Homo sapiens: one gene and its partner. The protein of the gene in region 1 purifies or fractionates together with the protein of each later gene. This does not show direct contact. Each region holds a gene or a part of one and is shown on either strand. Other genes may lie near its edges. The genes, in order: MC3R and MRAP2.

Region 1 (3,410 bases):
AAGTGGGTTACATCCTCATGCTACCTTTGGGGGTGGGGACAACTGAAGGGATATGGGGGTAAGAAAAGGGGAAAACGGCATAGCATTGCTCCTTTCACAAAGAGACAATTGTCTAACTGTAAATAGAATAATAGAGTAGAACTCAGTCTCCTACGGAGTTATAAGTGCAAAGCTATCTCTCCGTGTAGCTGGCAGCAGGAGGTCGTAGCTGTAACAGGTTTGCTTGCAAGAGATCTGAACCACCCTTATTGTTCATGAGAATCCTTCAGTCTGGTCTGGCCTGGAGCATGAAGACGTGGGTGTGGAGCAGATGAGCAGACAGGCGTCGCACACCCTGGGTGTTTGGAAATGAGTGCAGAGAGCATGCAGAGAAGCCTTCGCTGATTTCTCCCAGTGACTATTTGGGAAATCAGAGTTTGTGACTTACCCATCTTGGAATCCTTTCAGAGAATCTGTTGTTCACCAATTTTCCCCTTTAAAAGGCTTTGTAAACTTAAAAACAAACGACAAGTACAATCATGGCTGTTAACACATTTTTATATTTTCTAAGTATATATATTTTTCTTTCTAAACACCTCACGTGGATGGAAAGTCAAAAGTGACCCGACTGATGATCATTTCCATGGCCCTGCATCCTATCCCAAGTTCATGCCGTTGCAGCCACAGAGAATCTCCCTAAAGGTGTTGCGCAATTCCAGGCTCCGGAAAGCGTAGATGAGTGGGTCGATGACGGAGTTGCACATGATGAGGACCAGGTAGGTGTTGAAGTGGGCAGTGTAGCAGATGCAGTAGGGGTTGGTGGGGCAGGTGATGATGAGGACCAGGTGGAGGAAGAAGGGGGCCCAGCAGAAGATGAACACGCCCAGGAGAATGGTGATGGTGACTGCCCCCTTCATGCATGAGTGTTGCTGTGGGGCCACCCCGTCGGCAGGTGGCAGTGCTGCTATGCGCTTGACGTGCAGCCGCGCAAAGAGGAACATGTGCACGTAGAGGGTGCCCATGAGGAGCATCATGGCGAAGAACATGGTGATGAGGCACACAATGACCATTTTGCTCTCCGAGTAGACGATGAACACCACGCCACAGACGCCGCAGCAGACCCAGATGGCCACGATCAAGGTGAGGGCCTTCCTCACGGTCATGATGCTGTGGTAGCGGAGCGCGTAAAAGATGGTGACGTACCTGTCGACGGCGATGGCCAGGAGGTTGCAGATGGAGGCCACCAGGGAGATGCAGATCATGGAGTCGAAGATGTTGTCCATGTGCTGGATAAACTGGTCCTCGAAGGTCAGGTAGTCGCTGTGGACGATGGCGATCATGATGGTCTCCAGGGCATTGGACACACTTACCAGCATGTCGGCCACCGCCAGGCTGCAGAGAAAGAAGTACATCGGGGAGTGCAGGTTGCCGTTCCTGACCACGGCCAGGATAACCAGGATGTTTTCCAGCAGACTGACGATGCCCAGAGACAGGAAAACCTCGGGCTTGATGAAGACCTGCTCACAGAAGGCGCTGCTGCTCTGGTTGCTGAAGAAAGGGGCTTGGAGGTGCTCCGAGCCATTAGGCAGTGTTGGCTGAACAGAGGGCAGGCAGCACGAAGCATTCATTGCTGTCAGAAGGGCTGATCCGAGCTGGGGCTCCAGCAGGGTCCGTAGGAAGCTGCTGCTGCTCACAGGAAAGACAAAATCTCCCTCCAGATACGTCTTTTGGATGCTCATTCAATCTGGCCTTAGAGTTTATTCTCCTCTAGAATAAAAGGATGGGGAGGGTAGAGAGACAGATAGTGAGAGAGGGTGGAGGAAGAGACAGAGAGAGAGAGAGACATACACACAGAGAGAAAGAGCGAAGGGGGAAGAGAGAGAGAGAGGGAGAGTAGCTAGTTAGTAGCTAGCATGCAAGTTTGTAGCTTGGAGACATAGGGAGAACTTTGCTGTTCCAGGAGGAGCAGTTTTTATCTTGTTTACATAGAAAAAATACACCATAGGGTCTCTTACCAGCTGTCTTCCTTCTGTCTCCCTCTCACCCCTCTGTTTGTCTCTCCTCACTTCCCCACCTGGGAACAGAAAACCTGCCACCGGCTGCTACAGTTACAGCTCTTTTCATGGCAAGACAGGGGATGTGTTACTTGTCGCTAGAAGTGAAGGGAGAACACTCAGGTTTTTCATATTGGCCAAGGGCAAACAACTCCTACTTAATCTTCAGCGCAGCAGAATGACCACTGAGCATCGGGCACCTCTCTGACTGACAGCAGGTACCTGGCCCTGAGGATTCTGCAGGGAGATTAAGAAGCAGACTAGTGCCCTCTGCAGGCCGCACGGCTGTCTGCTTGCTGGCTTGGCTTAGCCCTTTGTGTTTGTCATGGAAACTGCCACAGGCATCCACTCATCTGTTCATTTGTTTGTTTATTTGTTAGTTCATTCATTTGTTGTTGTTGTTTAGCAAACATTTATTGAGCGCCTACTATGTGTCAGGTCTCTGCTGAGTGCAGGAAATACAGTGGTGAGCAAGACAACAGCCACTATCTCAGGCTTCCCCGAACTCAGAGTCTGGGGTGGAAGAAGAGGAATCAATAAATGCTTGAATCAGGAAAGTCCAGGAAACCAGGGATGCAAAGAGGAAGAGCCCTAACCCGGACTGTCAAAGTTCCTGGAGGAAGGAGCACCTATGCTTTGACTTCAAGGAGGAAGAGGTCATATCCAGTTTGGGGTGGGTGGTGGGGTGGGGGCTGGAGCTGGAGGAGGTAGAAGAGGACTCCAGGCAGAGGGAATCACACGTCTGCAGCCTGGAGGCAGAGAGCACCCTGGCCATAGAAGTCATCACAGATTGTGGATGTGGAGATCCCATTTGACCCGCGGAGTCAGAATCACCCAGGTGTAAGACCTGAACAAGTGTGTTTGCAATTTTTGACAGGTGAGCTGGGGCATAGTCACAGTTGAGCTCCACTGAAAAAGAATCTTGGGCTTTTGAAAGTGCTGAAAGTAGTCTGCTCTGGTCAGAGCATGGAAATAGGAGACACAATCTGAGAAATGAGGCTGCACAGTTTCTTAAAAAGTTGAGAGGTGCCTGAATCCTGAAGGACAGCCTCAGCCAGATGTGAGAATTTGGACAGTACCTTGACAGCAATGGGGACTGTGGAAGAAACATAGGTAGGGCAGGAATGAGATGGGGTCTGCATTTTAGAAATATTCCTGGTTGCAGGGTGGAGAATGAATTAGACAGACTGAGCATGTAGGCCAGGGAGTCCGGGGCAGAGGGTGTTGCAAAGACCCAGGGTGAGATGATGGTGGCCTGGAGCAAGGGAGTGGCCATGGGGACTTGGAAGACTTGGAGGGTGGTCAGAGAGATTCAGAAGGTTGGATAATGCAGCTTCAGAACTGATGGGTTATGGGATCATGGGAGAGGGAGCAGTC
Region 2 (3,131 bases), on another chromosome or scaffold:
GAGTTTAGACTGGTGTCTTACACAGTGGCAACCAACATAGTGGCTTTTAATTAGCCATCCTGCATCCACCACTTAGGATGTTTATTTTTGCTCTTGAAAGATTTTCAGAAACAAGCAAAGGGGAAGAGCCAAATCATTTACACACATGCATAACCAAACCCAAATCGGATTGTTCACAGAAATTTTAACCCAGGCATGCAGATCAAACAAAATATTAAACTAGGCATGCAGAAAGAACCAAAAATGAACTCACCAGAAAAGACATGTCTCCAAGACAGATTGTAAATGTTGTAGAAACCGGAGTACTCTCCACAAGGACACTTCTCAGGAAGAGCTTGCCAAAAACAGAATTTTATAGTTCCAAGAGAGATGCAGCATTCTTCATTTAAGGTAGGCTGATAACCAAACCAAATCTCAGATAAAGTCAAAAAGCCTCTATCAGGAAGAAGGGGCTTAGCCTGAGTGAAGACTCACCAGGGAAGAACAGGTGAGCCATGGAGGCAGAGAGCTCAAAGGGCTCAAGGTGAGCACAGCCTGCAGGTTCCAAGAATCACTGATTCCTTCCAAAAGTGATCTTGCTTCAGGTTCCGCTTCTGGAGACCATTTATGTCAACCTAAATAACAAATACTGAGAGGTTCTCTAAAAGAAAATGATGTTTACATGGTAATGGGTCATTGCAATGAAAATACTCATGCCATATAACTTATGTGCATATTCTGGGAAGTAAAAGAAGACAAAGTTTTTTAAAGGAAAAGTAAGGAGGATTACATGATTGTTTGGAGAGAGTTATCCTTAGCTACAAGGAACAATATGGGTGGTGCCAGTTCCAGGTTGGACAGGCAGTTGCTGGGCAGATGTCCTTATAGAAGTATTTTTTTGTGCAAGGTTATGGTTTTTGCCATCTTTCATGATTGTTCTTGTTATCAGACATTTGTGAGTGAGAATTCCCACTTCATGGCCTTCCCCAGCTCTATTCATCAGGATATTTTTTAATAACATTAAGTGACTCCATATTTATTCTGACAACTTTCACAACATACAGGTCCTTTTGTTTATCAGTCAAGGAAAGAAGAAACAAATAAAAGTCAAGTATATTGAGTGTTTAATATTTACTGGACTCTAAGAGTACAAAGATGAACTTTTTGCTCTTCTCAGGAAGGGAGAATCAGACACATCATACTGTTGCCATACCAAGGGATCATCGGGAGGAAGCCAGAAGGGAGGGGGTGGCCATGGGAGCACAGGGTAGCCTCAGGGGGCAGGAAAGGCACCTCAGAGGGGCTTTAATGTCCACTGCCTTGGCACTGTCCTGGGGAGGGACAAAATTCTCTTGGTCTCTTGTGCCTTAGTTCTCCAGCAAGGGTGACTAATGGACTTTAATTCCAGGAAACATAGCTGTGTTATGGAAGAGCAGCCACACACAGCTGGGCTTCTGGGTCTGCTGTCACACTCAGCTGGTGCCACAGGTAGGCAGAAAAGCTATTTCTCAGAGCTTCTTAGCCTTGGAATTGAGGAATGGTGTGGACCCCAGCAATCTTAATTATGCTTTCTCCAAATGCTTTGTGAACCCCCAAAATCCGAGAGAGGTCTCAGTTAATTTAGAAAGTTTATTTTGCCAGGGTTGAGGACACACACCCATGACTCAGCCTCAGGAGGTCCTGAAGACATGTGCCCAAGGTGGTTACAGCACAGTTTGGTTTTATCCATTTTAGGGAGACATGAGACATCGATCAACATATGTAAGATGAACATTGGTTCAGTCTGGAAAGGCGGGACTACTCGAAGCAGGGAGGGGACTTCCAGGTCGTAAGTAGATAAGAGACAATGGTTGCATTCTTTTGAGTTTCTGATTGACCTCTCCAAAGGAGGCAATCAGATATGCATTTATCTCAGTGAGCAGAGGGGTGACTTTGAATAGAATAGGAGGCAGGTTTGCCCTAAGCAGCTCCCAGCTTGACTTTTCCCTTTAGCTTAGTGATTTGGGGGTTCAAGATATTTTCCTTTCACAGCTTTAAGCCACTCTTTTTCCTAGGTGACATTTTAGTTTATCAGGTCACAGGTTGCTGGCACACTCATCCCTGTTCTCAAATATCTTTTAAACCTGAGAGAAATGACAGTTGAGGGAAACTCATTTACAGAAAGACAAAGAAGACCATGTAAATTTGCACTAAAGCATAAATCTTCAGTCTCTCTAAAATGATTTTCTCTGAATTCTGAATACCTGACATAGTAGAATATTGGATTCTTGCATAAACCCTTGACGTTCACAACATGTTTGTTTAGTGGGCAGTGAAAATTGTTAACCTGGCTTATTATTAAAAGGAAAAATACAGGTTTCTGAAAGGATTTCTTGCTTGATGTCACCCAGGTAACCATGCTAGGAGACAGATCTGATATTAAAATTCCTTCAGCTAGCTGGATTACAAACCTTCTAGGGTTGCTGACCTCTGAAATCCAGGTGATTTTGATAATTTGGAGTTTAGTGATATACAATCAGGTTTTCCAGACCTGTGTTTTTTTTGTTTTTGTTTTTTTGTTTTTCACCTCTGCCCAAATTCTTACAGAATTTGGTCATAAGTGCTTTCTCCTGAGTGATAGGATGGGAAGGAAGAGATTTAAGAACTGGAAACACTGAGAGGATTACACATCTGTTGAGCACAAACTCCAGGGCTTGATTTTTGTCAGGTTCTGTTCTGGACTTGAAAACACATTCAGTCATGATTTGTGCCTTTAAGGAGTCACTACCTGTGCATGGGCAATCCTTCTTTAAGTCTGGAAAGGATGGTGATTAAAGTAGATGGAGTATCAGGTTCTCAGCTTACCTGGGCTCTTTCTTTCACGCACTTGTGGGACTCATTGAGAGTTATTTTATTCACTCATTGACTCATTTATTACCCTTGAACTGCTTATTTGTTCCACGTTAAAGGAAACAAGGAATTAGGAATCTGGGTTTTATTCCCACTCATACCACAAACTGATTGTGTGACTAAGTGGGCAATTTGACTGCTCCTTACCTGAGTTCATACGTTTGTAAAATGCACATCATAATTCTTGCCCTAACTGACTGTATTGGTTACTTTTGAGAATCAAGTGAGAAAAATGGATATTATAGCATTTTGGCAAATATTTA

The links.
Region 2: the proteins of MC3R (region 1) and MRAP2 purify together in Homo sapiens (co-immunoprecipitation; one study listed by IntAct). This does not show direct contact.

What each region holds. Positions count from the first base shown.
Region 1 is NC_000020.11:56,247,041-56,250,450, reverse strand, and holds MC3R (melanocortin receptor 3), read right to left. Parts: upstream 1,720-3,410; 5' UTR 1,608-1,719; coding exon 636-1,607; downstream 1-635. UniProt on the Homo sapiens protein: Receptor for MSH (alpha, beta and gamma) and ACTH. This receptor is mediated by G proteins which activate adenylate cyclase.
Region 2 is NC_000006.12:84,085,475-84,088,605, forward strand, and holds part of MRAP2 (melanocortin-2 receptor accessory protein 2), read left to right. Parts: intron 1-1,387; coding exon of another isoform or gene 1,388-1,467; intron 1,468-1,713; coding exon of another isoform or gene 1,714-1,807; intron 1,808-3,131. UniProt on the Homo sapiens protein: Modulator of melanocortin receptor 4 (MC4R), a receptor involved in energy homeostasis. Plays a central role in the control of energy homeostasis and body weight regulation by increasing ligand-sensitivity of MC4R and MC4R-mediated generation of cAMP.